4 separate regions of the Homo sapiens genome follow, and regions 2, 3 and 4 are each linked to region 1. The links come from fine-mapping of genetic effects on gene expression. A gene starts in region 1. Each other region holds a variant in brackets. All regions are shown on one strand. Distances are between the middles of the regions.

What was found.
Region 2: its variant is fine-mapped to the expression of ADGRA3 in whole blood (TOPMed, PIP above 0.99). The same link has a PIP of 0.9 or more in blood mononuclear cells.
Region 3: its variant is fine-mapped to the expression of ADGRA3 in lung (TOPMed, PIP 0.94).
Region 4: its variant is fine-mapped to the expression of ADGRA3 in sun-exposed skin (GTEx, PIP 0.96).

What each region holds. Positions count from the first base shown.
Region 1 is chr4:22,511,486-22,519,593 of GRCh38, forward strand. It overlaps ADGRA3 (adhesion G protein-coupled receptor A3), which reads right to left and starts at 4,581. Exons shown (of 19, transcript NM_145290.4): 1 at 4,043-4,581. The coding sequence starts at 4,299. MIR12115 (microRNA 12115) reads left to right here and starts at 3,827; the gene lies at 3,827-3,900.
Region 2 is chr4:22,678,886-22,686,993 of GRCh38, forward strand. No RefSeq gene overlaps it. Among named protein-coding and RNA genes, the nearest start is that of ADGRA3, 170 kb to the left of the region's middle. The variant C/A (reference allele first, on the strand shown) is at 3,684.
Region 3 is chr4:22,602,193-22,610,300 of GRCh38, forward strand. No RefSeq gene overlaps it. Among named protein-coding and RNA genes, the nearest start is that of ADGRA3, 90 kb to the left of the region's middle. The variant A/C (reference allele first, on the strand shown) is at 3,543.
Region 4 is chr4:22,429,117-22,437,224 of GRCh38, forward strand. It overlaps ADGRA3 (adhesion G protein-coupled receptor A3), which reads right to left. Exons shown (of 19, transcript NM_145290.4): 9 at 7,324-7,525; 10 at 6,195-6,350. Among named protein-coding and RNA genes, the nearest start is that of MIR12115, 82 kb to the right of the region's middle. The variant C/T (reference allele first, on the strand shown) is at 3,509.

The sequences.
Region 1 (8,108 bases):
CTTTTAGGCTATGATGAAGACCAGTTCATCCATTAAATAGAAATGGCTTTATTTTTCATGATTTAAAAAAAAATTATATCCCATCTTTGCCATTCTCCCAGTTCCCATCAGTTAATTTTCCTCTCTGTGGCCACATCACGACTCAGCTGAAAACACCTGGCCACACCTAAGTGATAAAGGCTCAAACCAGGGAGCCTGGCCATCCTCGACTCAGCCCCTACAGACTCCTCTGACCACCCTGGGCACCAGACACTTACCTTTGACATTCCGGTAACACCAACTGCACAGCAGCATAACCAGATACTGTCCTCTCCAAACCCGTGGGCACCTGGGGTCCCCCACTTCCAACCTATCATTTCCTCCCCTTGTTCCCTCACCGTTTTCTTCACAGTTATATTTTTCTTTCTTTCTTTTTTTTTTTTTTTTTTTGAGACAGAGTCTCACTCTGTCACCCAGGCTGAAGTGCAGTGGCACGATCTTCACTCACTGCAACCTCCGCCTCCCGGGTTCAAGCGATTCTCCTGCCTGCCTCAGTCTCCCTAGTAGCTGGGATTACAGGTGCAAGCCACCACATCCAGCTAATATCTGTATTTTTAGTAGAGATGGGGTTTCATCATGTTGGTCAGGCTGGTCTCGAACTCCCGGTCTCAAGTGATCTGCCCATCTCAACCTCCCAAAGTACTGCGATTACAGGTGTGAGCCACTGCGCCCGCCCCACAGTGATCTTTTTCCTCTTTCCAGAATTGGCTCAGGATCCTCAATCCCACTAGGATTGAGGGAGAAGGAGGCCCTGGTTGCCCTCCTCTGGGTTTCTTTTGCTACATGTGCACCCTGGTAATAGAGCATTGACCATACTGTTCTGAGACTTAGTCATGAATTTTTCTCCCCAAATATCTGTAATTTCCTGGAGAAGAAAGAGCATGTTTTTATTTGTATTCTGTCATGAGCTGGACAGTGTTTCATAGAAAGAAATGTCCAAGTCCTGACCTTTTAACGTGATCTTACTTGTAAACAGGGTCTTTGCAGATGTATTTAATTAAAGGATCTTGGGATGAGATCATCCTGGACCTAGGGTGGACCCTAAATTCAGTAACTGGTATCCTTATAAGAGAAAGGAGAGGACTTGAGACACACAGACACACAGGGAGAAGGCCAATGGAAGGCAGATGCGGAGACTTAAGTGATGCTGCCCCAAGCCAAGGAAAACCAGAAGATGAGAGACGCAAGCATGAATTCTTCCTAAAGTCCTCAGAGAGAGCATGGCCCTGCTAATAGATTGATTTGGGGTTTGTGGCCTCCAGAACTATGAGCGAATAAATTTGTTGTTTCAAGCCACCAAGCCTGTAGTAATCTGCAGCAGCCCTAGGCACTAACACACAGTCCAAACTTCAACACGCTACCTACTACCTAGAGGCCACTCAACAAAAACTGTGCTCAACTAAGATGAAGGCAAGGTGAGGAATGAGAAAGCATCTGAACTGCAGGACAGGAATCTGGGACGTGGACTCTGATGCTACTATGAGAATTCTGGTGAGCAAGTCCCTTATCTACAGTAACTCTAACTCTTTCCCCAGTAAAATGAGGAAACTGGCCCATAAGACCCCTCTACAGGGGGCCTCATATACCTTGAACCCTCTTCAGCCAGAACAACTTTCCTCTTTTTTTTTTTTTTTTTTTGAGATGGAGTTTCATTCTTGTTACCCAGGCTGGAGCGCAATGGTGCCTTCTTGTCTCACTGCAAACTCCTTCTCCTTGGGTTCAAGCAATTCTCCTGCCTCAGCCTCCCGAGTAGCGACTAGCTGGGATTACAGGTGCACGCCACCACGCCCAGCTAATTTTCTGTATTTTTAGTAGAGATGGGGCTTTAAGCATGTTGGCCAGGCTGGTCTCGAACTCCTGACCTCAGGTGATCCACCCACTTCCACCTCTCAAAGTACTAGGATTACAGGCATGAGCCACCACAACCAGCAGAACAGCTTTAATTGATCCTTAATTGTATCTTCTTCCCATTCACTAAACAAATTTTTTTTTTCTTTTTTTTTTTGAATGGGAGTCTCACTCTGTTACATAGGCTGGAGTGCAGTGGTGCGATTTCGGCTCACTGCAATCTCCACCTCTCGGGTTCAAGTGATTCTCCTGCCTCAGCCTTCCAAGTAGCTGGAATGACAGGCATACGCCACTACGCCTGGCTAATTTTTGTATTTTTAGTAGAGACAGGGTTTCGTCAAGTTGGCCAGGCTGGTCTTGAACTCCTGACCTCAAGGGATCCACCCGCTTTGACCTCACAAAGCCCTGGGATTACAGGTGTGAGCCCACCATGCCCAACCTTAACTTTATTTTCATCTAAAAAGCTTTCAGGCAAAAAAAAAAAAAAAAAAAAAAAAAAAAACTGGATTGAAATGACATTTCATAGTTACTTATATTTTAACCAGTTTCTAAAAATTGTAGAAAAATAGTTTAATTGGTAATATGCTGAAAATCAATTTACCACCATATCCCCTATTTTTTTCTGCAACGCAAAATCAACAATTTACTAGTAGTTGACCTAATCCAGCTGAAATTGTGGACACTTTTAGGTCAGAAAAACTGGACCTAAACATGAGTCAACGTAAATGTCACTCATTGACCCAAAACCTAAATGTTTATAACATAACTGCATGATGACTAATTTTTGCAGAGTAACAAAGAAAATCTCCTCCAACATTGGGATTTTCTCCATTTGGACTGTAATTAAAGTCCCATACCGAAAATTTCCACTTCAAAGAATCTGACTAAGAAATAAATAAATATAACTGCTGCCACCACCACATGGTAACGTGTTAGTAACGGAGTCAAATAAAACAAAAACTCTTTCATCCATCTTCATGCCTCCATAAATAGACACATAGACACAATTTTCATGGTTAAACGTTTCCTAATTCAAAAAATGGAAATGAAGGTAAACAAAAGTGTTAGTAATGAAATGTATACCTGGCCTACCTGTGTATACTCCTGCTGAATTTGGGTTACATTTAAAACCATACTTTAAGTGTTTTCATAGATCATGCTGCGGTCCTTGCATTCATGTTTGTATAGTGGCTGCCTTGATTCTTTTTTTAGGAAACCAACCAAAACAACATAGAGGAACCCCGAGCCAAGGGACTCACATTTCAGTTGAACAAAATACCCATGAGAAACACTTAGACTCAAAACTTTCCAAACCAATTCATCCTTCTGAAAACAAACTCGACAGTCACTGGGGCCAACTGTTCAGCTAGAATTGGCAAAACTACGTTTGCAAAACTGAACCGTGAATCCCAGCACAAGTGAGTTACCAAAATTTTTCCTTCCAGGTGGAAACTCAATCCGAAAATCAAAAATCCCTCGAGTTGGAAGGCTCAATAAACCCACGGTTTTCAGTTCCAATGTTCCTGGCTTTTAAATATAAGCCCTCACAGACACGAAAACGGGACTGCAAGGTACATAAACAGATTGATCTGAAATGTTTCCAGCCCTTAATAACAACTCTATCTTAAAAGGTGCTCTTTAACTGTAATAAAACTAAGATAGCAAAAGGCAAAGGAAGCGTCTTGGGGTTTGGGCTCGCACACAGTCCTTGTGTTTTGCAAACTCTACCACGTAAGTGTAACTTAATTTGCAAAGAAGCAGAAGGACTGGCGCTTGCAATCAAGCATTGTGTTTTCTGGAAACCCAAGCCCAGGATGAATGAGCTTTAACTCTGTTGACTGCGTGTTTACTTGCATCCTCACGTGGCACCGCGCAGCCCAAAAGCGCTGCGCCGGGGACAGCGCGGGGAGCGCCTGAGAACCCGAAAACTTTACTTTGCAAACTAGTGGAGCTGGGAGGCAGCTCGGACGCAGATTCCCTTGCCTTTCCCTGAACTGCACCCATGCCAAGCACACGAGGTCTTTCCTAGCACCGCCCCCTGCCTACAGCTCCACACAAAGGCGCGTGGGTGCCGGCTGGACCCTGCTCCAAAGTTGAGCGGAGAGATAAGAAAGAGCCGAGCGGGAGAGGACCCAGCGTCGCGGGAGATACTCACAGGGTGACCGTGCGGTTGGGCAGAGTATCTGGGGGCAGGACCTGCGCGAGTTCCAGGCTGCTGCACACCACCTTGCCCTCGGCGGCGCCCGCCGCCCTGCCAGCCCCTCGGGGCCGCCCATCGTGCTTGCAGCCGGCGGGCAGCGCCGCGGCGCCGCCGCCGCCGCCGCCTCCCAGCAGCGCGAGCAGCGCTAACAGCGAGAGCGGCAGCAACAGCGGCGGCTGCGCGCGGCCCCGCCGGCGTCCGGGTGGCTCCATGCTGCGGGCCGGGGCCTGCGGGGCGAGCGGCGGCGCACTGGCCTAGCGGGCCGCCCCGGAGCCCGGGCGGGCAGGAGCGCGGCGCGGGCCCAGCGGCGACCGGAGCCTTATGGCGGCCGGAGGACGGGCCTTCCCCGGCGCGGACATGCTCCTTTGTCCGCTGCGGCTGCGCTGGGCCTCTAGGGAGCCGGGGGTCACGGCCGCATGGGTCCCAGCGCCGCTCTACCGCCCGGCGCGAGCACCGCCTCCTCCTCCTCCTCTGCCGCCGCCGCCGCCGCCACTGCCTCCTCCCCTGGCCAGGACCCGCGCGCGGCGGCTCCTCCCCGCCCGCCGCCGGCGGCCGCCCCCGCCCCTTCCCCTCCTCTTTCCCGGCTCTCCTGCTCTCCCCGTGTCTGCAGCTGCCCGGGACCTCGGGGAGGAGGCGCGCGCTCCCGGGACCTGCCGAGCCCGACTCCGACCCGGTGCGCGCCCGGGCCTCGGCCTCCGGGCAGGAGTTGTGGGGAGCCCGCGGGAAGGCAGTAACTCGTAGAGAGAACGGAGGAAAGTTCGAGTCCGAACGGAGGAAAGTTCGAGTCCAAACTCCACCCGCGGTGGCCACTCTCCTGCTCGTTTCCCTTCGCCGCCACCGCGCTCGCACCGCGGGCACAGGACAAAGCAGTCTTGTGCGCTCCTGGAGACTGCCCATGTGGCCCAAGGAGCCTGGCCCGGAGGATGGAGTAGGGACGAGAGTAGGGAATTTCCCTGACCAACCCTATGGGAAAAGTACCCAAAACCAAGTGTTTCGGAAGGAATCGCCTTCTCACCTCATTATGGTAGTCTTATTTGTCCCAAATACACTGGAGCCAGTAAACAGGTTCCTCTTCAATACAGTGAACAATCTGAAGCTGTTTCTGGCCTTCAGCAACAACAGCGATGGTCTCTAAAGGATGCATCTGGACCTCACTAGAAAGGCAGCCTTTTGAAAGAAATTCGACAGGCAAAGATACTTGAGATGTTCACCAGTTCGAGCAATAATGAGCAAACCCTCCAAGAAACCCCAACAGAATTGATTACTCTGACTTCCAGCCTCGCCCTAACATTTGCAAGCCCAGGGCTTACCTACCCTATGTTTAAAATTTTACAAGGACTATATCATGCTAATAAAATATATTCTGTGCTCCTGCCTTGAGAAATTACCTTCATAACAACCTGGAAGGTTTGTAAGCAGGATTCTCAGACACCTTGGAGTTTCTCCCTGAAACATGGCAGGTGGGAAAGAGTCAGATCCAAACCTTTGGCCTGTACACCTTCACCGTCTTTGCTTCCTGTGCCCAGCTATCTTCAAGGACAAGAGGGGATTTTTTGTACCTGTGTGTGAACACCGCAGCCCACAAAACCAAGTTCTGTTCACACTTTCTAACAGCCACCCTCTGTCTGCGTCTGGATCTCAGGTGTGCCTATACCAGTTGTTGGGTCCTTCATTGGGAGGACAGTTCTCAGAAGAAGCTAGCTCAGGGCCAAGAAGTGGCTTTGGTAATACCAGTCAGGGAATTCCAGGGTCCTGGGTCTTGGGGACATAGTGGGTACCCAGGCTTTGGGTGCTGGCCTGGAGATTTTTCACCCCATAAGAAGAGTCAGGTTGGTGTCCTCTAAAATGGAGGGCCTAGAACACGGTTTTTCTTGCTTGGGTCTAAGGACACTACTGCCTCTGGCCCCTACAAAATTTATCTTAGGGACCAATTTGCAGGAATCTGTTTATCTGGCTAGAGCTTTCTCAATGGGAAGTAAATAAATGGTCTCCATTTATCATTTATCAGTGTTGTATTAAATTTGAATAGCAGTTCATTTGACCAACCCAACCATGTCCAGTGCTGTCTAATAATACATTCTGTGATTGTATAGCTGTTCTAGTTCTTTGCTGTCTAATATGGTGGCCAACTGTGGCTACATAGTGTGTGGAATGTAGATAGTGTGCAATAAGAATTAAATTTTTCATTTCATTTTAATTAATTTACATTTGAATTTAAATGCCCAGTGGCTACCCTGTTGGTGTTGAACAACATAAGCCCAGACACTATGATGGGAAGAAAAAGTGGGAGATTATCTGCACCATTAAGTGACTTCGGATCTATAAATAACCTTAGCAGGCACACTGGTGCCTCTGTGTTAAGGTGGGTGAAATGGATCACATTTCTCTTGAATTTATCTGAAGAATTATTATTCCCTAACAAAATAATGATCTGTTTTTTGATTAAGATAAAACCTTACTACAGATTGAGCATTGAGCATCCCTAATCCAAAAATCCAAAACCTGAAATGCTCCAAAATCCAAAACTTTTTGAGTTCCGACAAGTAATACCTCAAGTGCAAAATTCCACACCTGGTCACATGTGATGGGTCACCATCAAAATGCAGACACACTATGCAGTTTACTAGCATCCCCAAGGGAAAAAAGCCCCTCCCAGCCCTTTTCTGCTGCTATATATCTTTTCAGGGCATGCCTAAATTCCCCCATGCAAGCGTGCCCCCCAAAGGTAATCAAATGGCATGCATGCAGGCTGGATTTGCCAACGACAAGTTCCCCACAATGCCCACACTGGGCCTTCATCTACGTGCATTACTCACTGTGGGTTTGCTTTTTTGTTGTTTTTTGGTTTTTGTTTTCCTTTTCTTTGCTCTGTGGTGTAAAGCTATTGTTAGTATAAAGAAATATCAGGCCGGGTGCAGTGGCTCACACCTGTACTTCCAGCACTTTGGGAGGCCAAGGCGGGCGGATCACGAGGTCAGGAGTTTGAGACCAGCCTGGCCAACATAGTGAAACCCCGTCTCTACTAAAAATACAAAAAAATCAGCCAGGTGTGGTGGCGGGCACCTGTAATCCCAGCTACTTGGGAGGCTGAGGCAGGAAAATCGCTTGAACCAGGGAGGTGGAGGTTGCAGTGAGCCGAGATCGTGCCACTGCACTCCAGCCTGTGTGACAGCGCAAGACTCCATCTCCAAAAAAAAAAAAAAAAACAAAAGAAAAAAAAAAAGAAATATCAAAGAAGCCTGAAGTTAATCTGTGGTTATCAGTGATAAAAAGAGGAAGCATTTATTATGTTTATGCAACAGAGTCCAGCTGTTAGAGAAACTGGACAGTGGTATGGGTATGAGATTTGTTACAGAAAAGTATGGTGACAGAATGACCGCCATGTATAATCTGAAGAAACAGAAGGATAAATTGAAGATCTATGCTAAAAGCGATAAACACAAGTAAATGAAAAATAGAAAAACACTGTATGATGCAAAATATGAAGATCTCAATTGTGCACTGAAAAAGTGGATCCATCGGCATCACAGTGACCACATGCCACTTAATGGTATGCTGATCATGAAACAAGCAAAGATCTATCACAATGAATTTGAAATTGAAAGGAACTGTGACTATTCAACAGGCTGGTTGCAGATATTTAAGCAAAGACACAGCACTAAATGTTTAAGGATTTGTGGTGATAAAGCATCTGCAGATCAGAAAGCTGTGGAAAAAGTCATTAATGAGTTTGCCCATATCATCGCTGATGAAAACTGGATACCAGAGCACGTCTATAATGCTGACGAAACATCACTATTTTGGCATCATTGCCCCAGAAAGACACTGACGGTGGCAGATGAGACAGCCTCTATAGGAATTAAAAATGCCAAGGACAGAATAGCTGTGCTGGGATGTGCTAATGTTGCAGGCACGCATAAGTGTAAACTTGCTGTGATAGGCAAAGGTTTGTCCTCTCTTTTTTTCAAGGAGTGAATTTCTTATCAGTCCATTATTCTGCTAACAAAAAGGCATGGATGAC
Region 2 (8,108 bases), 170 kb after region 1:
AAAAACAAAGTAAGAATGGAGTGAATAGACTTTGGCCAGGAGTAAAAAAAAATAGGAATGGAGTGAATAGACTTTGGCCAGGAGTAAAAAAAATAGGAATGGAGTGAATAGACTTTGGCCAGGAGTAAAAAAAATAGGAATGGAGTGAATAGACTTTGGCCAGGAATGTAATTTTTCTGCTCCTTTGGTTGTTGTTGGAAACACGCCTATTGGAAAGTGGAACCACCAAGTGAATGTGCCTATAAAAAGGAATATAGAATTCTCTGATGTCCCAGCATGCTAAAACATCAAAGTAAATTTGGGCAAAGCTCTTCTGGTATATGAACTCTAAGGTAGAAATATGCTCTGCCTGCAAGAATAATAATAGACTCTGTCTTCGAATGGGGAATTAAAATGCTGGAAAGAAAGATAGGACTTGGAATGAAAAAAGTTGGACTTGAGTGCTGGCTTTGATGACTTATTACAGAGCTCCTTCAGGCAGTTCTCTGGTTCTCTTCTTCCTTTATAAATGTTGTGCCTTACTAAATGACCCCTAATATCATTTCCATCTCAAAAGACTCCATGACTCTAACTGAGGATTCCTCTCCAAATTCCATGAACAGAGCCTTTTTAGTGCTATATTTTATGATTCTGAATGAAGGTGTTCCTTTCCTCTGACCACTGTAGAAAAGGGGGAGAGAGTCCTGGCAAGACACTGTGGGTAGTTAACTGCTATGTCATATGACACAGAGAACAGCTGCACTACAAACATTTCCCCTTCCAAATAAATAAATAAATAAATAAAATGATATGCTGAAGTGCACAAAAAAGGAGTAGTAGAAGGGCAAGAGCTTCTGGAATGTTAGCTTTATTTAGCCCAAAATGATTGGCAGCAAGTTGTGACTTTATTACTCAATGCATCTATGTTGCCATTCCAAACAGTTGTTGCAAGTGCTCGAGAGAGAACAGTAAGCCTGTGTAGCTGTTTTTCTTCTGTCTTCTAGTTGGGTGAAGAGAAATGCACATAAAACCTGCTTTGAAAAATACTAATGATTAGAATCAGGGTCTGTTGATGGTTCTGTAGAATTTATCCACTCTTCATGTGGTCTTATTTCAAGAACAATATTTTCCCCTTACTGACATATAATGCCTACTTATTGTACAACATTTGTAAAAGCACAAATGTAAATGAAAATAAATATTGTCATAGCCTCAACACCAAGACATAACCACATTTTGGAAATATATCTTGTAAAAAGCCAAAGGGGAAAGGGTGGTAGGAAATGAATACATATGAAAATTGAGACCTGGAGAAGTAAACTTTGCTGCATCTACGGATTCTTTATACTACAGCGCACTTCCTCAGGGGCTCAGCTAAGCATTTCAGAAGAGTGCAAGTGTTGTTGACATTTAAAAGCTACAGCATGGGCTTGGGATAAGGCAATTCTGTTCTCTATTTCTTAGAGAAGAAAAGAATCCCAGTGCACACCAGGAAAATAATTTTGGAAACTCAGTTAATTGTGAAGGTGAGGCTGAGCCAGCTTGTGGTTAAAGCTACAAAGGAAATATTGTTCACTTCCCATAAATGATTTCCCGTATGTAAAGTGGGGCCGATCCTAGCAGGTGACTTCAGAGACATGGAAACATTTAACCACAGATGAATAAATCTTGCAAACACATTTTTTAAAAATGCAAAGAGTAACCTATAAAATAAAATCTGTGGCTGTCACATTTGGAGACTGAAAGTTCAAAAAGCAGGGCCTGTTTATACCAACCACAAAGGCTAGGGATCTGTGGTTTTATTGGATTTCTCATCCCAAGAAAATATTTACACTTGGAGGAGAAGATGCGTTTTTAGCTATAAAAACCATATGTAGCATATTTGTGGACGATATTGCAAATAAAAATATCTTTTTTTCCTCAGCCTGACAAAACAGACAGTTCTGTTTAAAGCATCAAAAAATTAGGTAAAATAATCACAGTTCTTTTAAATGTGTGAGGCTTTTTATTTTTGGTGGAGATGTATATGGGTGGTTGCCATGAAGGAGAAAGATCTTTGGTGAGTGTCCTGCTTTCTGCTGCCACAAAATTCCAGTCACTAGAGTTTTTGGAAGTCTAGATCTGTGTGCATGAGAAGAGAAAAGAATACCATGAGAGAGAGCTAGAAAGAAAAAATAGTATGGACATAGCTCAATTGACCAAAGGCGAAATGAAATAAATAAACATTGTGGGGGGAAAAAAAGACAATTTGGAGAAGTTTAATAATGCATTTATTTATTTAAAAAATATATATATTTTTTCTTTTTTTTGAGATGGAGTCTCACACTGTCACCCAGGCTGGAGTGCACTGGTGTGATTTTGGCTCATTGCAACCTCTGCCTCCTGGGTTCAGATTTGAGACTCTGTCTCAAAAAAATAAAATAAAAACCATAAATAAATAAATAAATAAAAGATAAAACAATGATTCTCCTGTCTCAGTCTTCCACGTAGTTGGGATTACAGTTGCATGTCACCATGCTCAGCTAATTTTTGTATTTTTAGTAGAGTCGGGTTTTCGCCATGTTGGCCAGGCTGGTCTTGGTCTCCTGACCTCAAGGGATCCACCAGCCTCAGCCTCCCAAAGTGCTGGGATTACAGGCATGAGCCACCGTGCTTGGCCAACAATGTTTGTCATTTAATGATTGACAATCAAATTATTTTAAAAAAATTGATTTAAGGGTCAGTTGGTTTGAGGGGGAAAAAAACCCTTCAAACTAAATATTAGCTTTATGCATTAGCATTTATGCCATAAAACAGTTTTCATTTTTAATTGAAACTTGGACGTTTCTGAGCAGCAGAGGCAGAAATAAAAAAAAGTTGGCTGGGCACGGTGGCTCATGCCTGTAATCTCAGCACTTTGGGAGGCTGAGGCGGGTGGATCACAAGGTCAGGAGTTCGAGACCAGCCTGACTAACATGGTGAAACCCCGTCTCTACTAAAAATACAAAAATTGGCCGGACTTGGTGACACGCACCTGTAATCCCAGCTACTCAGGAGGCTGAGGCAGGAGAATCGCTTGAACCCAGGAGGCAGAGGTTGCAGTGATCCAAGATCGTGCACTGCACTCCAGCCTGGGTGCCAGAATGAGACTCTGTCTCAAAAAAAAAATAAATAAATAAAAAATAAAACAAAAGCTGTCTTCAAGCTGGGGAGAGTGATCCAGAAATAAGTGTGACAACGCAGACTGGTCTTTTGTCTTTCCAAAAATAATATCTGAATGCTTTAGAATAGAAGGGGTCAGACCTCCTGAATATCCCCTATCTCCTCCCTCATTTTTATAGCTCAGATTGCCTCACTGAAGGATATTAGGAAAACTCCATGACAAAACCATATAAAGAATTTCTCAAACTGTATTGTAGGGCTGAAATTTAATTGCAGCAAGGGTAGTGCAGGGAGATGAAAGTTTACCTCTACTCTCTTCAGGTTCCAGCTGGGCCTGAGAATTAAATTGACATAAGATAGATACACAGGAGGAAAACATGCAGAGTTTTACATGTCCATGGGAGCCCCTGTTAGGAAACAAAGACCCAGAGATGTGGCAAAACCTGAGTGCTGATATACTAGGTTGAACAAAGAATGGCAATTGTAAAAGTAGCTAAAATGTACAGGGAGGCTGAAGGAAGGTACAAGTTATAGCAAGATCTGTTTGTACAGATTTTTCTCAG[C/A]CTTGACTGCCCGTCTCTTGTGACAAAAATGTTTCTTCTCTCCTGGTGGAAGGTAGGCATCTTTCTACATGGGCGTTCTCTCCTGTCTCCAGTGACAAGAATATTTCCTTTTTCTTGGTACAGAGAGGGCCGATTGTCCTTTTGTTTCTGCTATTTTTTAAGTGCCTTTAGATCAAAATAATCCTTATGCCAAAGTGGCATACTATGGGGTGGCACATTCTGTCACCCATCAGTGCAAATATTGTTTGGAATATGAAAATGAGTGATGACAACAAATGCTTTTTGTTTGCTTGTTTGTTTTAGGTTATGATGGAATTTCAGGACAATACTATTTCAAAATATGACCCCTTGACATTTGAGAAAGCAGGAGACACAGGAAAGTCACTCTCACCTTCCCCTCAGCCTTCTCCCCTGAAGCAGGTCATAAAATCTGGGAAGGCCGCTCTCTGACCTTTTCCTGAAGTAGGTCATAAGGCCCTCATGTGAGGGGCACCCCTCTAATATCAAGAGAAAAAAAATCCTTGTCTCAGAAGACTCAGGAACACAGCGAAAAATATGAACAAACAGAACTTGCTAATCTTCCCCTAGTTTATTACCATCCTATCATACCCTGTTGTCAGCTGGCTTATTTTAACTGTTGTATTCCTAGGAAAAGAATCCCTGTCTAACCCAGGTTATACTCTCTTCAGAATCATCTGAAAGCCGAGCTACTACTTTGAGTAAATAGCAAGGCCCTACCCATGACTATTTTTGACAAGGTACCAACTGTGGGCCTGGCATTATTCTCAGGGATTCACATGTATCATCTAATTTAATCCCAGCAACCATCCTGTGAATTAGGAGTGATGACCGTTGTTTTACAGACATAAACACTTCGGTTTAGGGTGGTCAAGGAATGCACCCAAGCTTAAATCGTATCTAGAAAACAACCAAACTGTGCCTCATGTCTGGCTTGTCAGTTGATACCCAAGCCTATGCCCCTACCCCTCATTATTCTAGAAAAGAAATGTCACCCGTAATTTGAAAATACTAACTCAATATTCAAATCACTTCCCCAATGAAAAAATGATCAATCCTTCTTTCATGGTTTGAAACTTCTGCAGTTTCTACCCACTTTTGCACAATCTTCAGGTCCTTCGAAAAGTTGTTCTTGGTGTTACCTTTTGAGTTTGTAATTGAAGTTGGCAATAGGGTAAATCTGCCATCATCAAGCTACTCTGCCATTATAAGAAACTAGAATTTTGTTTTTATCCCAGTTGTAATGTCTTTGTGTTTTCTCTTTTTGTTGGTGTGTGCAATGTCTGTCTTTGCAGTGAACCACTAATCACATGAGAGGTGTGCCATAAAACAAAGCTTTCAAGGTAATCTGCATTTGTCACAAGCTCCCTCCCACTGACTTTGACTGCCACTGCATATTTTATGACCTCACCTTGATTTCAGGAATAATACAAATATATGGCTTATGTTGTGTGAATTTTGATTATTGTATGTGAGCATTACAATGCAAAAAATCATTAGTCAGAATGCAAACACATACAACACACATGAGATGAGAATATAATAATCTTTTATAATCACTAAAATAAACAGATTATATGGTAGCTCCAAATGTTATGGAAATGAAATGTTAAGTTCAGGGCTGTTATTGTGCCATGTACCATTGGGCAATTCAGAGGACCCCCAAAAAAGGGAATGTGAGTACAGTACAATGTTGCCTTACAGAAGATGGAGAGGAGAGACTTTCTGTTGGGTGCAGAGCCAGGGAGATGCCCCTCACCATCAGAACACCACACTGGGTGGATGGAACTTTACATCAGCTACGCTAAGATCAGGAACCTTCCATTTTTCTGATGAAGTCCTCTGAGGAGAATCCTTGTCTGCTCCCTGAGCCTAAATCCCGATTTCACTTCAGTCAGTGCTCTCAGAGGTTTCCTTTCCCCATTAATGACCTCCTGGACACAACAGAGCAGGGCAACATCCCATAGTTTTCGGTAGATTCTTCCCTCTGCCTCTCCATTTCGTTTCTCTACTCTGGATCTATAAGGTATTGGGAGGAGGCATTACCTCTAGGAAAACTAGAGGTAACTGTCTACTTACTCTTAGATTCTTCCCCAAGTAACAAGGAATAAAAATGGGATGCTATTAAAACAAAGCTGGGGAACTTCAATTAGTAGACTATAAGAGGACTTAAATGTGGACCATATGTTCAGGGACTAACTGGGTTGGCTTGGCTCACCATTGTCTTTCTAGAGTTTAGTATGGTTCCTGGCTCATAGTAAATGCTCCATGTATTTTTGGTGAATGAATTGATGAGAAAAGACCCAATGAGCCTTTAATTCTTAGCTTGCCTGATTAAGGCAATCCCTACTCTCAGAGAAGTTATGAATTAATGAGGAAGACAGGCAACTAAGCAAGTTTTAAAACAAAATGTTATATATGAGTGTTATGCAAAAAGGCATAAAAGAGACAATGGAAACACAGTGCTGGGGGACCTGGCTTGTCCTGGGGAGTCTGTTCTTAAAAAGTAACCTTGAACTGGTCAATAGGAGATAAGGATTAGCCAAGATAAAGGAGAGAAGAGTTCCAGACCAGGAAACATCATTTGTGAAGAATCAGCCCCAAGAAAGAGCATGGATCATAGTAGATTTGAAAAGCTGAAAAAAGTTAAATACGCTTATGAGAGGAACACTGGTGTGCGTGTAAATAGAAGGAGACAGGAAACTGATAATGCGGACCTTGCTAATATCAGGAAGTTTGAACTTCAGGGACAGAGGCAATCACTGAACAATTTGTGTTTTGGAAAGGACTCAGGCTGCAGTAGAGTATGTTGGATGTGAACAAAACTGGAAGTTGGGAGCCTATTTAAACCTTTCTAGCCCTGAAGGGATTTCTTTTGACTTTGATTAGAGAAGAGGCCACAGAAATGAAGGTAAATTGACATACACAAGACATGTCAAGGAATCAGAGTCCACAGTGTTTGTAAGGGGGCTGCAGGTGGCAGGAAGCAGGAGGAGGATAAATGAAGGGTTTAGATGGCATCCAGGCTCTGCAGCAGTCTTTAATTATGGACCCAAGAGAGGAAAGTCTGGGCAGGTTCTCCCAGTTCTAAAGCTGTGCTGGCTTTCCAGTCTAGTTGATCTAAAATAATTTTACTATCACCAAAATTGTTCTGTTTCACTCTGTTTTTATACTTTATTTGGCTCGATTTCATTCTTTTATGCTTCCTTTCCAGATCATGGGCTTCCAATGCATTGCTTGATTTTCTGTGGGAGGAAAGTGCTTTTGAAGTTCCAAATCCAATCCCTGAAGCAAGATTAATAATCAAAGATCCTCTCCAGTGTGCAAATCCTCATGGGATTTAGGTGGATTGCTACAGCCTAGTCCCGAGGCATGTGGCACACCTGTACGTTGCCACAAATAGTTCAGAAATAACACCAGTTCATGTCTACAACAAGGCCTTTGAACTTGAGTATTCTCTTTCTGGTATTCAATGCTGGAGCTGCAGTGAGAGCGTGCAGTTCCCTAAATTTTGCCCCCGAGGAACCTTACTTGTCTCACCATAATCTCAGTTCATTTGAACACTTCTCCAGATACTCTGTAGGAATACAACGGAGTTAGCTTGTTTCAAGGGAGAGTTTTTTTATTGGGAAGATGACCTAACTGGCTAAGTCCAAGTTTGTGGAAACAACATATCTGAGGAATCCGAATCAGATCAATGAAATAGAGTTTCTAGCAGCTGCACTGTGAATAACGTCCTGAAAGATGCTGCTGCTGGAACTCGATTCCACAGCTATGGGTGTTTGTTGGAAGGCACCCAAAAGGGATTCCAAGGGCCCTGCCTCTACTGACTGCCGTTTATTCTTAAAGCACTAGGCTCAACAGTTGAGCTTTGTGTGGTATTGAGTGGGTTTTATGATTACTTGTTTGCCATTGTTAGTGTCAGCCTGTCAACACCTTGAAGGGCAGAGCATTTTTGTTTGTTTTGAAAATTACTCAATAGCAAATCCTTAATTATACAGCAGTATGGCTTTTTGAAAGGTTGAGTGATGTACTGCTGTTGTTTTAGATTTCTTTCATGCTAAATCTTATGAGGTGCATAGCCTTCAATAACTAAATGCAAATAATGCAATCGAATCCCACTTGAGCCTGCCATTAATTATCTCACATTTATCTTCATTTCCAGGCTGGTGATATGGGCCAGCATTCAAGACAACTAGAAAAAATATCCAGTAAAGGTTTTGAAGTTCCTTTATGTGCAGGGATTTATGATACACAGACACGTGTGAACCATACACACATACATGCATGTATACACACATACATGCATGTATGCACACATCTGCTTTCACATCTACACACATCTACATCTGCATAATACCACATGCATGGCTAGATGTAACACATGCACATATCAATGTGTCACAC
Region 3 (8,108 bases), 91 kb after region 1:
ATGTAGATTAGATAAACTACATCTATTACAACCAACAGCAACAAGCTTTTCATGAGTTTAAAAAAAAACTCAGGTTGGTCCCAGCCCTGAGGCTACCTGACCTGACAAAACTCTTCATCACACTCTATGTGTCAGAAAGAAAAAAAATGGCAGTTGGAGTTTTAACCCGGAATGTGGGGGCCCTGGCCAAGGCCAGTGGCCTATCTCTCAAAACAACTAGACAGGGTTTCCATAGGCTGGCCCCCATGTCCAAGGGCCCTGGCAGCAACGGCCCTGTTAGCACATGAAGCAAACAAGCTAACTCTTAGGCAAAACCTAAACAGAAAGTCTCCCCATGCTGTGGTGATTTTAATAAATACCAAAGGACATCATTAGCTAATAAATGCTAGATTAACTAGATACCAAAGCTTGCTCTGTGAAAATCCCCGCATAACCCTTAAAGTCTGCAAAACCCTAACCCTGCCACCTTACTCCTGGCATCAGAGAGCCCAGTTAAACATAACTGTGTAAAAGTATTGGACTCAGTTTATTCTAGTAGGCCCAACCTCCGAGACCACCCTTAAACATCAGTAGACTGGGAGCTGTACGTGGATGGGAGCAGCTTCGTCAAGCCCTGCAAAGTGACTCTGAAGAAGATGACAAGCCCTGCTCCAGTCACACCCGGAAGCTGACTGCTCCACACACGGCCGAAACATGAGGAAACTCATCGCGGGACTCATTTTCCTTAAAATTTGGACTTGTACAATAAGGACTTCAACTGACCTTCCTCAGACTGAGAACTGTTTCCAGTATATACATGAAGTCACTGAGGTAGGACAAAAGATTGCTACGGTCCTATTATTTTATGGTTATTGTAAGTGTACCAGGACTCTGAAAGAAACTTGTCTGTAAAATGCTATTCTATCCAAGGTATGTAGCCCAGGAAATAACCAACTTGATGCGTGTTATGACCCATTTTAAGCATCCCATGATCACAGTTTTTAAAATAAAATTAAGGACTGGTCCTTTTCTAGGTGACACAAGTAAGGTAATGGCTAAAACAGAAGAAAGAGGGGTCCCCAAAAATGTAACCTTAAAATTTGATGGTTGTGCTGCTATTGATAGTAAGCAGCATGGGATAGGATGCGGTTCTCTAGATTGGAAAAAAAAGTTACACAGCAGAAAATAAGTACATCTGTCAAAAATCATATTTATGTGAGATGTGTCAATATTGGTCTTGTGTCATTTGGGCTACTTAAAAAAAAATAAAATAAAATCCTGTTTGACTCCAAAAAGGAAAAGTCAGCCCCTCCTGCATGAGTGGGAGTTGCAGCCTTTTAAAACTGATAATCACAAACCCCTCAGACCCAAAGTAAAATTAAAAACACATGTAACATTAGGCATTGATGGAAAAGGACTAGATCCTAGTGTAAGCATCCTAATAGAAGGAGAGGTTCAAAAACGCTCTCCAGAACCAGTATATCAGACTTTCTATGATAAACTAAATGTGCCAGTACCTGAGATTCCAAGAAAAACTAAAAATTTGTTTTTGCAATTAGCCGAACACGTAGCCCAGTCTCTACAAGTCACCTCATGTTATGTTTGTAGAGGGACCGTAACAGGAGATCAATGGCCATAGGAAGCCCGAGAATAGGTTCCTACAGACCCAGTTCCTGATGAATTCCCAGCCCAAAAGATCACTCTGATCATCTCTAGATTCTAAAAGTCTCAATTATTAGACAGTATTACATAGCTAAAAAAGAAAAAGGATTCATTCATCCTGTAGGGCAGCTTAGTTGTCTTGGGCAAAAGCTGCATAACAGTACCACAAAAACAGTTACATTGTGGAGTTCCAATTACACAGAAATAAATCCATTCAGGAAATTTCCAAAGTTGCAGACTGTTTAGGCCCATCCAGAATTCCACCGGGACTGGATGGCCCCCACCGGGTTATACTGGATATGTGGACACAAAGCTTATGCTAAGCTGCCTGATCAGTGGACAGGTAGCTGTGTAACTGGCACCATTAAGCCATCTTTCTTCTTACTGTCCATAAAGACAGGTGAACTTCGGGGCTTCCCAGTCTATGCTTCCCGGAAAAAAAAAAAAAAAAAGAGAAAACGAAGCATAGCCATAGGTAATTTAAAAAATGATAAATGGCCTCCTAAAAAAAAAATCATACAATACTATGGACCCGCCACTTGGATACAAGATGGCTCATGGGGATATCGGACCCCCATCTACATGCTCAAGCAAATCATACGGTTACAAGCTGTTTTAGAAATTATTACTAATAAAACTGGTTAAGCCTTGACTGTTCTTGCCCGGCAAGAGACTCAGATGAAAAATGCTATCTATCAAAATAGACTAGCTCTTGACTACTTGCTAGCAGCTGAAGGAAAAGTTTGTGAACAATTTAACCTTACTAATTACTGTCTACACATAGATAATCAAAGGCAAGTAGTTAAAAATATAGTTAAAAATATAACAAAACTGGCACATGTAACCATGCAAGTGTGACACGGACTCAATCCAGGAGCCATGTTTAAAAATTGGTTCCCAGCAATAAGAGGATTTAAAACTCTTATAATAAAAGTAATAATAGTAATAAGAACCTGCTTACTGCTCCCTTGTTTACTATCTGTACTTCTTCAAATGATAAAAAGCTTCATCATTACCTTAGTTCACCAAAATGCATCAACACAAGTGTACTATATAAATCACTATCAATCTATTACACAAAGAGACATAAGCAGCAAAAATAAGAGTGAGAACTCCCACTAATAAAAAGTGAGAGTCTCAAAAGGGGGGAATGAGGGAAGAGAGAGACCCTCTCATATTGTTTTATATTGTTTTATACTCAGTACCTGTTTTAAGAAAAAACAACAAGGAAGCAAAACCAAAGACAGGCAGCCCGGCACCAGGCCCGAAACCGGGCCTGGGTCTGCCTGGCCTAAACCCGGTAGTTAAAAATCAACTCATAACTTAGAAACCGATGTTATTCATAGATTCCAGACATCGTATAGAAGAACATTGTGGAACTCCCTGCTCTGTTCTGTTTCTCTCTGACCACCGGTGCATGCAGCCCCTGTCACGTACCACCTGGTTGCTCAAATCAATCATGACCCTTTCATGTGAAATCTTTAGTGTTGTGAGCCCTTAAGAGGGACAGAAATTGTGCATTCGGGGAGCTCGGATTTTAAGGCAATGGCTTGCCGATGCTCCCAGCTGAATAAAGCCCTTCCTTCTACTACTCGGTGTCTGAGAGGTTTTGTCTGCGGCTCGTCCTGCTACACTATCAGCTGTGGTTGAAGGTTTCTGCAGGGAGAGTTGTGGCAATTCCAGTCTGCTCTACAGGCGGGCAGGGTGGACTCACTCAGGTAGAGTCACAGGTGTGGGTAGTTGGTTGGAAGTCTGGCTAGAGTGCAAGACAATGTTAAGAGATGAATAAATATGGGAAGGCACAGCTAGCACTCTTACAGACAGTCCATTAACATTCCTGAGTCTGTTTTCTCATTTTTAAAGTGGAAATTCCAAGAACTATTTTGGAAATGTTGAAATGT[A/C]AGTGAAGGCACTGGCTGGGATCCAGGACCCCAAACACTCTGTCTTACCATAGTAAGAGATCCCAGTTGTGTCTTCCTATACTCACTCTTCCTTTGGAAGTGTCCATGGTGTATGTTTGTGTCTATGCACACAAACAAGGCTGAGAAAAGGAACACACTACAACTAGATGGAACCCTAATCCTGTTCAGCTAAGACTACACAGATTTGTGGGAATTCTGTTGCTCAGAGAAGGCAATCCTAACTTTGGGCAGGAGGCCTCTTTGGACCCTTTAACCCGGAGCCATGCTAAAATATCAGCCCTCTGATTCGCAAACTCTGATACTGGGAAAAGATAAGTCTTTTTGAGTATTAACTAGATACATGCAGTTATAAAGTACCTAGTACAGTACCTGACATATAGTGTCTGCCATATAGTAGGTTTCTCCAAAATGTGAATGCATCCTGTCTCTATGCCTTTCTTCTCTGATTTTCCTTAAGTACTGGGCACATCATTTATAATGCTGCTTTCCCAACTTCAGATTAAGATGACCATGGGAACAGGCCCTGTGCACATAAGCAGTGACGGAGGTGGATGCTAATTCAATTAATAGTATCCATAGGCCAGTGGGCAACCAATGAGGGGACCTGGAGCAAGAGACACTGTCCAAGTGGGTAGAGAGTAACTAGCTAAAACAATGTGTCCATCTCCCTTTTGGGCTGTAGACTGGAAAATATGGAGAGTGGTCAGTTATTAAGGGGTAGGAGGAGAGAGAGAGCGAGATGAAGAGAGAAGAGGAGGCACAAAAGTAGCAGAATAGGAGTCTGAGAGGGCATCTGAGTGAAGATAAGGTGAAGCTGGGGGCTGTGATGTAAGTGACAGTCCTTTTCCAGGAAGCAGCATATAGCTGCCCCCAACCCTGCCCAACATGCCAATGCCTGCTAGTCCAAAGCCACTTGAGTCCTGGGAGCAGCATTGCCATGTGCAAGAGCAGTAGGGGCACTGGCAGGAATGCATTCTATTCGTCTCACTGGATTAAACATTTACTGGTCCCAGATCAGATTGGCTTGTGTCAGCACCTTTGAGTGACACACAGGCCCCTCTGGCTTATGTCACTTGCATATTTGACAACTCAGCTATACTCAAGGCAGCTCCCCAAAGCCTGGTCTAACCCTCACCGGAGAGCAGGCAGCTCACACTCTGGCACTACCATGTGTTACCTGGGCCCTGAGTTAGGAAGAGAGATTGCCTGTGGTATCAGATCATGCCATGGGGATTCTGAGTCCATACCGAATGGGGTTGCTTTTCAGGATTTCATTCTGAGAAAGAATGCAAATGAAGAATATAGAATTACACTAGCAGCAAAGTAGAAGGACAGAAGGGAAGACAGGAGTCAAGTGGGTTGTCATATGATGAGGTCAGAGTGAATAGAGCCCTAACGAAACTAAGCGAGCATCAAATGGATATTTGCAAGGTCTATGTATGCATGCATTCAGATACATTTTATCAACTTTATTTTTAGAATATTATTTCATTAACTCTAAGTTTTGAAGGTTTTTGGGGTTTCCAAAATGGGTTACTTCTCCTAAAAACAGTTCTACTTGATTCAAGATGCCAATTAAATGGGTACTGGAGGCAGCCATGGCCACGGACTCTCCTTTTGTTCTCTTTCTTTGTGAGCGCAGGTATAAGCTGCACTGATCCTGACCTTTTGGCCTGAGGATGGAAGTCTTCAGTATCCGTACAACTTTACACCCAAGAGCTGGTGTAGAATGAGTTCCTCTGGCCATGGCAGGATCACAGAGGGGTGCCTGCCACCTGCAGCCCAGCCTCAGTAAGTGCAACTGTGCAGTTGGCAGAGGGGAGGGAGCTAGGGGCACACCAACGGTTTCTGTTACTTCCTGTAGGCATAGCCCAAGTCTCAGGAAGTGGAATATACACAGGGTAGGGTGGGGTGGGGGAGGGGAGGGGAGCTGTTTCTTCCCCCACCCATTACCTACTAGTCCAAAGCCACTTGAGCCATGGGAACAGCAATGCTAACCACAATAGCTGCAGGGACCTGGAAGGGGACTGGTGATGACATCCAACAGCAATGCTCTTTTACATTGAGATGTTGATGGACAGGAGTCCACCTAGACTTCTCTAGAGACACACATGTCAAAAAGCAGGCAAGTATAACTCTCTAAACATTCCTTGGATGCTGTATTATCACCCCCTTCCCTCACTACAATTCTGTAATCTCCACCTTGGGAGGAACAAACACGTCTTATTGCACCTTGCCCAGAAATAATATCACAGCTTATTAATTCCATCTACTCCCCACACAAGGGATAACGACTGTCCACAGAAGGGGTAAGGAAGTCTCAAGTGCCACACAGGGAATTTTCCTAGGGCCTTCCATCATTTTAGGCCACTAGTAACTCACCTATAGCCAGTACTGTAGCAAGTTGAGAGTGTATGGATTTGGGTACCATTCATCTGTAAAAACCAAAGAAAAGACTTGCACTTCTGGATTAATTCACAGACCTGTGGGAAGACCCTCTTGTCTCACCTGTGACTCATGACCATATTTTGAGATTCCCAAGTCCCTGGAGCCTGCTTCCTCCTGAGCAAAGAGGGTTGTCTTTATTTCAATTGGCAAGGAAAGTCCATTTGTTTGTCTCCAGTCCCGCCAGGGGCTCCACTCTCCCTCAGTTACGGGAGACCTCCTGAAGCAAGGCTGGAGGGAGAGGCTGTGTGGTAAGAGTGAGTTTTGAATGAGTATGGACTGAGGGCTTTACATGCACCAGGTGCTGCACAAAATAATTGAATTTAATCCTCACTCCGGCTCTGACAGGTGGTTGAGATCATATCTTTATTAAACTTAGCATTTTACAATGGGCAATTAATTGCTGGAGATGGGATTAAAATCCAGTCTTGTCCAACTCCAAAATAGTATGTCTCTCACTACCTAACCCATGCTTGCCTCTCAGTGACATCACATCTGTAACTATAGGAGTGTTTCCTTGCTATCAGATCCAAGTGAATACAATCCTTTGTACCGAGTTACCTTGAGGTAGCCAAATGTGCCAGAGTCAACTCTAGTTAGAATGAATGAGGACATCACCCCACCTTTGGTTGCTTCAGTTCTCCAATTTAAAATAATATATGTTGGGTACCAAGAACTGATGCTCTACTGAACAATCCCAAATACTTGGAATGACCAAAGTACTAGGCTCTTGCTCCTGGAAAACAATGATGTAAGCCAGCACTGCCTGGACTTTGGGTCTCTCCTCAGGTAGCATAAACCACACAGAGATTGTGATCATCTGCTCAGGTTTTATGCCAGCCTTGCAACAAATCTCCTTATCTTCATGGGATCTTTATCTTCACTTCTGCCTCCACACTACTGTTAGAAACACATATACCAAGACTTGGTGGTTATGTAGTAATAATATCTTCACTCCATCGATGTTGGTTTTTTTCAAGAAAATTTATTTTAAATCTTGGCATTTCCACAGCTGCAAATCTGGGAGAACGAGCCAGCCCTTGCGGAGCTGTGTGTGTTAGCTGGATCAGGGGTGAAAGGGGGCAAGCTCAGGGTATCTTTCAACCGCTGATAAACTCCCAGGGACCAAGGAACCTGGTCCCCACGGCTTTTTATCACTGAGATGCTAGCTCTATAATGCCATCTCCATGGTGATTTCTATGTTGAAGAAGAACATTTGTTTCCTGCCACCAGTGAGAGACCACCTGAGTGTTCGGTTGCAGTATCTTCAACTCTCCAGGTGCATCAGTAGCATTGTCTTCTCTGGGCTTCTCTCATAGAACTCATTTTTAGCAAAGTCAAGTTTCCATATTCTAGGTAGTAACTTATCAGATGGATGATCAAAAAGATGGAAGCAAAACATTTTCATGTACTGCATTTCAGTTATTTTCTCTGGGGTTTTATCACCCTGCGGGTGGTTGTCTCCAAAATAACAGGTGTCATTCTGCTCCATTAATCAGGTTCCCCTACCTTTATCCGGGCACTTTTCTCTTCAGCGTCTTCTTCAAGGTATTTCCAGTTGCCCACCCTGGACTGTTTCAGAATGAGGAGGACACCTGGAGGAATCTACAGGTGCATAGACCAATTTGCAAAAGAACCTGTGAGCCAACGTAGGTTGTGAGATGCATATCCCACATCCAGTTCAGCCCAGTAACTTGGGAAATGGGGGAGAGGTAGCTCTGAAGACCAGACAGTACATCTTTACCCCCATCCATGCTTGCAACTGTAAGTTGATCTTAAATCAGTACTTTTAACCAAGTCAACCTCAATCACTGGAATAGGATACCCAGCTGAAAAACTTGGGGTCACTGAATCAATCTCTTATCTGTAAGAGATAATGACGCCTACCCAATGGGGTTCTGAAAAATATGTAATGCCTGACATGTAGTGTATACTCACTGAATGTGGCTTTTAACCACAACCTTTATATTTTTGCCAAGAGTATCACCTTTCTGCAGCAACCCTGAGAACCTCACGCTAACCTTGTCTTAGATTGCTCATTCCTTTCCTATATTTAGACACCAAACTCCATTCATTTTCCCCTTGAAATGTTCATTCCCA
Region 4 (8,108 bases), 82 kb before region 1:
TTAAAAAAAACTGAACAATAAATTTAGTTGTAATTGTGCTAATCTGTAAATATTAAATATATTAAAAGATAAAACATGCCAAAATACTGATTCTACCCTAAGGTGTTACTGAAATAAATGAGATTACAAACACGTACGTGCACTTCCTTTTCTAGAAGTACAGAGGACTGAGTACTCTGGAGAACTCTCCAGCAGAAAGTGAAAAAATGCTGAAAGGAAAACAGTTATCTTTGTTAATGCATCACTGAGAAGTAGGAAAATAGATCCTCCTCCAAAACCCAGTCACCAAAGAACAGCAGAAATCCAAAGAGCTCTGAGGTTGAACTCTGATGACCACGAGGTATGTTTTGACTTCCACACAGGGCCTAGGCCATGCCAACACAGGGTACCAGGAAAAGACCCCCTGTTACAAAGCTAGAAACTCAAAGGACACCACCTCCAGCATCAGGCCTAGCCAGCAATCACTCAGCTTCATGGAAGGAGAGCCAGGAAACGTGCCTGTTTTGACCTGGGCAAGAGGTAGAAGGAGGTTAAAAAAAAAAAATTATTCTCTGACAATTTGGAAACACAAGTTGACCTTCAAACAGGTCCTTTATACTACTTTCGTGTTCTTAAAAACCTCAAGCTAAAAATTAATTTTAAAATGAGTCCCCCTACACTGGCACTCGGCAGAAGCAAGCAAATATCACAGTTAAGGATACATTAGACCTTTCTCATTAATGCTCCCAACCAACCAACACTTATTGATATGGTTTGGCTGTGTCCCCACCAAAATCTCATCTTGAATTGTAACTCCCACAATTCCCAAGTGTTGTGAGAGGGACCCAGTGGGAGATAATTGAATCATGGGGGCAGGTCTTTGTCATGCTGTTTTTGTGATAGTAAGTCTCACGATATCTGATGGTATTATAAAGAGAAGCTTCCCTGCACAAGTGCTCTCTCTTTGCCTGCCACCATCCATGTAAGGCATGACTTGCTCCTCCATGACCTCTGCCATGATTGTGAGGCCTCTCCAGCCATGTGGAACTTTAAGTCCATTAAACCACTTTTTCTTCCCAGTCTCAGGTATGTCTTTATTAGTAGCATGAAAATGGACTAATACAGTAAATTGGTACCAATAGAGTGAGGCGATGCTGAAAAGATACCCAAAAATGTGGAAGCAACTTTGGAACTGGGTAACAAATAGGCGTTGGAACAGTCTGAGGGCTCAGAAGAAGACAGGAAAATGTGGGAAACTTTGGAACTTCCTAGAGGCTTGTAGGTCCAGGCTGAGGTGGTCTGGGATGGAGATGAGGAACTTGGGAACTAGAGCAAAGGTGACTCTTGTTTCATCTTAGCAAAGAGACTGGCAGCATTCTGCCCCTGCTCTAGAGATTTGTGGAAATTTGAACTTGAGAGAGATGATTTAGGGTATCTGACAGAAGAAATTTCTAAGCAGCAAAGCATTCAAGAGGTGACTTGAGTGCCGTAAAGGGCATTCCATTTTATAAGAAAAGCAGAGCACAGAAGTTTGGAAAATTTGCACCTTGACAATGTGATAGAAAAAAAAAAATCCCATTTTCTGTGGAGAAATTCCAGCGGGCTGCAGAAATTTGCATAAGTAACAAGGAGCTGAATGTTAATCCCAAAGACAATGGTGAAATGTCTCCAGGGCATGTCAGAGGTCTTCACCGCAGCCCCTCCCATCACAGGCCTGTGATGGTTTCATAGGCTGGGCCCAGGGTCCATGTGCTGTGTGCAGTCTAGGGACTTGGTGTCTAGCAGCTGTATCCCAGCTGCTCCAGCCATGACTAAAAGGGGCCAAGGTACAGCTTGGGCTGCTGCTTCACAGGGGGCAACCCCCAAGCCTTGGCAGCTTCCACGTGGTGTTGAGATTGTGGGTGCACAGAAGTCAAGAACTGAGGTTTGGAAACCTCTGCCTAGATTTCAGAGGATGTATGGAAATTCCTGAATCGTCAGGCAGAAGTTTGCTGCAGGGGTAGGGCTCTCATGGAGAACCTCAGCTAGGGGAGTGCAGAAGGGAAATGTGGGGTCAGAGCGCCCACACAGAGTCCCTACTGGGGCACCAACTAGTGGAGCTGTGAGAAAAAGGCCACCGTCCTCCAGACCCCAGAATGATAGATCCACCAACAGCTTGCACTGTGTGCCTGGAAAAGCCTTGTACTAATTCTTATATATATATTATATATAACAATATTGTACAAGGGTACAATAAAGCCACAGACACTCAATGCCAGCCTGTGAAAGCACCTGGGAGGGAGCTGTACCCTGCAAAGCCACAAGGGCAGAGCTGCCCAAGACCATGGGAACCCACCTCTTGCATCAGTGTGACCTGGATGTGAGACATGGAGTCAAAGGAGATCATTTTGGAGCTTTAAGATTTGACTGCTCCGCTGTTGTGTGAATAAGTCTCACAAAATCTGATGGTTTTATAAGGGGTTTTATAAGAGGTTTCCCTTTTCACTTGGCTCTCATTCTCTCTTTGCCTGCTGCCATGTAAGACATGACTTTGCTCCTCCTTTGCCTTCTGCCATGATTGTGAGGCCTCCCCAGATGTGCTGAACTGTGAGTCAATTAAACCTCTTTCCTTTATAAATTACCCACTCTCGGGTATGTCATTTTTAGCAGAGTGAAAACTAACACAATGGGTAAATAATTGTCTTGTTTTTATTAATCTTTCTTAAATATGTGTATGGCTCATACTTATTTCAATGTTTAATATTAGAAATGTTTGGGGTCTTTATTTGGAAGTTTGGTGACATTTTTGTGACCAGAAATGATCTCTAGGGATTTTATAAGTTTTACTTACATCAATTAGCATATGGTCAATTTGGTTTCATTACATATCATTTCAGTTAAAGTTGCAGTTTCCAAGAACCTATAGATGACCTTAAGTGAGGGCTTGCTGTATTGAAAACTGTTGAAGCCAAGCAGAGGTACAGCATAGGTATTAATGATAATATTCTCCTATCCTTTTGAATTTTCCAAGAAAAAGTTCTTAAAAAGTTAAAACCCCCCACCTAAAAAAAAATTAAAGCAACAATAGAAAATGGAGCTGTTACAGGGGTTCTCAAAGCCAGTATCAAAGTCATGCTGCCTGAAACATCACCTGAAACTGACTAGAAATTCAAATTCTCTGAACCCATTTCAGACCTGCTGAAATGGCAACTGGGAATGGCAGGGAGGGGGAACTCAGGCAGCAATCACTGCGTATAACAAATCCAGCAAGTGATTCTGATGTGTGGTGAAGTTCTACGAACAAAGTCCTAGAAAAGCTTAATAATACAGAAAAGTCTGGCAAGTAAGATCAAGAAAAAAAAGAATACAAAATAATCATAATTGTCAATACAGAAGCGATGACACTTTAAAATCAATGAAAAAGCCATATATTTGTAAAAATCTATATATAAACTAGTGTAAGGCGCATATCGCACTCACATATTTTAAAATAAGAGACAATAAGGGTGCCAGAAAGCATCATCAGATCTAATCTTTATATTTAACTTTC[C/T]CATCTTATAAAATATGCATATTGTTTTCATAAGAAAAATCACTTTAGTAAATACATAACAGACACTTCTGTTGCCTGACAAGACAACCTTTAACTGTTTTTAAAAGGATCCACTAAATATATCACTTAGATCTGGCAGTTTGAGAGCTTTTAATGCCTATCCTGAGACAACAAAGTGCCAGCTTGTGTTGGCCAGGCTCAATCACAGATTAAAAAGCAATTCCCCCACAATACTTTTGTTATGAAATCACTCATAAAAGAATAACTTTCAGACATAATACAAAAATCAATTTAATTAATTATTTCTCTATCTAAGCTAGGTGCATTTTAGGATAACTTGGCATAATTTTATGCTGTGGTAATTAACTTAAAATGAAGCCCTCAAGCCTCCTAGTTTTTTTCACTACACTAATAAATGGTGAAAGCTATGGCCTGTGGTTCAAATTGCCAAAGAACTGTATGTCAGTCACTGCATCACACGCAATATTATCACATTTATATCTCAATTATTCAATCCTGAATATTTTCCTGTTTCTCGTGCTGACAGTTAGTAAGTTGCCATCACTTGCTTCCGAAGATAACATAACTTTTCCGTCCTATGTTAACCAGTAAAAGTGACAGCAATCTTCTTCACACTAAATTTTTACAGAACTAACTGATGCACTCATGATTATTTAAAAGGACTTCCTTCTTAGCTTCTGAGGTCATAAAAATGTTATATTTCATAACCTAATAAAATGATATCCAAGCTTTGCAACTATTTTGCAAAACTGTTCGCCTGTATTTGTGCACATACACTTTTCAAATTATACAGAGAAAATAGCATCCCCATTTGAAAAATGAAGAATAAGCCCATGGTTAATTAATAACTAATGAAACCATGTCTACTTCCAGTTCAGTACAATGCTTCCACCTAAGAACCCGTCAACGCAGCCGACCACTCTTCCACAGGCTGGCAAACAGTTCAACATACACCTCTGGACACCACGTTGCTCAAGTTGGGAGGTGAGCAAAACAGGTTCACATCATAAACATGTATTCTTCGATGGCGAATGTTCTTCCATGTCCACATTCCAAATGTCATTACAATTATTCTAGTAACTAGAAACATCCCACTCCCGGAAATGACTGCTAATCCTGTGGGCACCAACCCTGTCATCTTAAGCAACAATGGAGCACAATATAATCACAGAGCCAGAACCCAAACGGCCTCTCCCAGTGCAAGGAAAATTCACTGCAGGAAAGTGGGCTGTGCCCTGGAGACACAATCAAGTATCAGGAGCAGTTATTAGAAAAAATCATGGCCCCTGAAGTTCAGAAAACAAATGAAATGTTATCCCGCTGACAAGTGAGGTGGCCTATTTGCCTAAGTCCCGTTTATATACATGTATCTATTTTCCTTCCTTTAATAACTACATCCTATCAAGTAAAGTGCCTAATGCACTAGGGCCACAGTTTCAAAAACTTATTACCACATTGCAAGTACTAATTCTTATATATATATTATATATAACAATATATCTATATTAGATACATAAATATGTAATATACATTAGATATATCTAAATATATATTATATAATATATTAGAATATATATGTGATATATAAGTGTGTGTATATATAATTGATATATAAAAATATATTAGAATGATTCAGGAAAATAAGGCTTATTATTTACATTTTAGCAATATTAATGGATCTGAGAAGTTCTACATAAAGAAATACGCAGGTTTTGTTTAGCCCAGTGTTTTCCTCACAGTTGTGTACAGAGCACTTTTAGAGTTCCAAGTCAGGGCCACATTGTATGGGAAGGTGAATGTGATGCTACAGAAAACTCTTATGGATGAGTCAGGGATCTTGGGTTCTCTTTCCAGGCGTGCCCTAACCTAAGCGTGGGCTTCAGTTTACAACTTGCTTGAGGTTCCCTCTACCTCTATAATTAATTTCTTTATAAGTGATTATATCACAAAAGAAATTGTACATATAAAGTTCTCACGAAGCTTTAAACGTAAAGTTTAAGAACACAATAATTCTGCCCCTTGAAAATTATTCAAAACATTAATTTGCTGCTCATTCATTCTGTAAACTGTGCTTGTCAATTTTTTTCCCCTAAAAGATATCATGTGGACAAGCATATCATGGTTTCAATGTGGTCCCGTTAAGTTAAAATACGCCACTTTTAGAATTCACTGCATTTTTTAAAACTTGTATAGTCCAATCATTTTGAATTTCAAAAAAGTGCCTAAACAGCCTCTCATTTCTCTAGGACATTACAAGGACAATTAAAAGGAATTTACTACAAGATCTGGGTGACTAAAACTCCCGTTACAAAAGATGAGCACGAGGATATGTGGAGAAGAGAAATCCAGCAGGCTGAGCTAAGCAGCTCTGCCTAAGCCACAACGTGGAGGCAGAACACTGCTTTTACTGCTTTCTCACCAGCGACCTCTGCTGTATCTCTGGACCTTAACGTCCAAGAACTGAGAGTTCACCTCTCCCGGTCCCAGCAGCAAACAGGTCATAAGAGAAGAGGCAGAAGTATCTCAATAAAATTCTGGAAATTTAAAAGCATGCTTTTAGCTCAAATATGATAAACATAAACAGGCCTTAAAATACATAGATTGAACTCTGTCACACTACCATTTGTTGACACTGTATGCTACAAATCTGAATTTAGAGAAGTACCTCTTTTGATTTTTCCTCCTTGGTAAATCTTCCAAATTTTTCAATCATTTCTGCCACAAATATAACATCCATTTTGTCAGAAAAGTTGGCTGCTTCCACAGTGTAAGCCAGTAACTGTCGAGCTGTTGCCACGGCATTGGTAAGATTGAGGGGCATCTACATTTCAAAGGCAAAAATGATCAACAAAACAGTCATTAGCAAAATGATCAACACAATCCTGACATTTTAACTTTGCATTTCAAAACAGCAACGAATTAAAAACTTTATTATTTACTCATCATGGCCTTCTTAAAATGCTTTACAAACCCAAGAAAACTGGAATTTTAATGGAAACTCACTGGAGGGAAATTTTTTCAAGCTTGGAGTGAAATACAATAATACATAAAAATACATGAGGTTAACATGTTGCACCATCTATCTCTTCTCTGCCTATCCAAATTCTACACATACCTCAACTCCAATTGCTTAATAAAGCCTTTCCTGAGTATTCCTGCTGGGAATGATCAATACCTCCCTTGGAGCTCCTACTGCACAAGAGTACGAACTACTTATTTGGCACTTATCTTTATTGCCATGCACTGCCAGTAATGTTTTACATGTGTTTATCTACTGACTCTAACACGGACTTAGCACCTAACATTGCAAAAGGATTTTTACCAGGTGCTAAGGGGCAAAAGAAAATACATTACACAAAAGCCATCTTCCACTTGCTTATAGTCTGGTAAGTTTTAAAAAGATGCATAGAAGCAAAGATAACAAAAAGCACATGAGTAGTTCAAGTATTCTAAGCAATCGCTTTCAACAAAGTGATTATAAAATGAATCCAAGAGGTGGCTTTCAATGTGAACTCGAAGGATGGTTAGGATTCTGTCTGGTGGATACAGATTAAAAAAAAGATATTCAAACAAAGGCACAAAGGGAGATGGTGACTGCAAAGGAAGGATTCTATAGAGGGCCTTGACTAGTGATTAAGATGGACCTGATCCTGAAGACAGTTAAGTCAACTAAAGTAAAAACACAAAATCCTTATGTTTTGCCTAGTATTAAAAAAAAAAAAAAAACTTATGTATTTGGTTTGAATACCATGTTTTCTCCACAACCCAAGTAAACATGAAGACTTTCTAGTTACCTGATTAAACATATAAAGAACTCTAGTGACATCATTTGCATACTGACAGCGAGAATAATCATCATCTGCCCAAAAGCCACCTCTATCACATCTGCGCCAAGCTTTTCTCTCATCCTGTGGGTTTCCGGGATATATCCCACTGCCATGGGTGTTCCGCGTACACTGCAGATATGCAGTAATGCCTGCCAATGTTCTGGGCCATCTAGAGATGAAGACAAAATAGTACAAGAAAATCTAAATGACACGGGTACATCAAGAATAACAACAGCAGAGAAAAAAATCAAAGATGAAGATGTGTCATGTCAATACAACCCTGACACGGGTCATCAAAACTGGGCTGGGAGAAACCTTTGTTATTTGAACTCTATGTCTCCAAAACTGAGAATGAAATTCAACATGTTTAATACAAGTTACCATGGATGCTCATCACAGGAACCACTAAATGACAGTATCAGTCACACCAAAACAGAATTCATTACAAAAACCACATAAATAGATCAAGCAACACTAAACTAAATCTTATTAATGCAGTGGGAATTTAATTGCATAATATCTTAAGGAGTGTCAAAGACAAATAATTCATTGATCTATAAACATTTAATTGCTCTATTTTTAAAAATGTAAAGCACTCAAAACTATGAGAATATAGAAAATCTACCATAAATAGTAAATATCATATTAGGATTATTTGATAAAAGATGTTGAATGTAACAAAATTACCAAATATCATATATTTCACTTAAAAGCATGTACTATAAATATTATAGATCAATACCTAATCTACA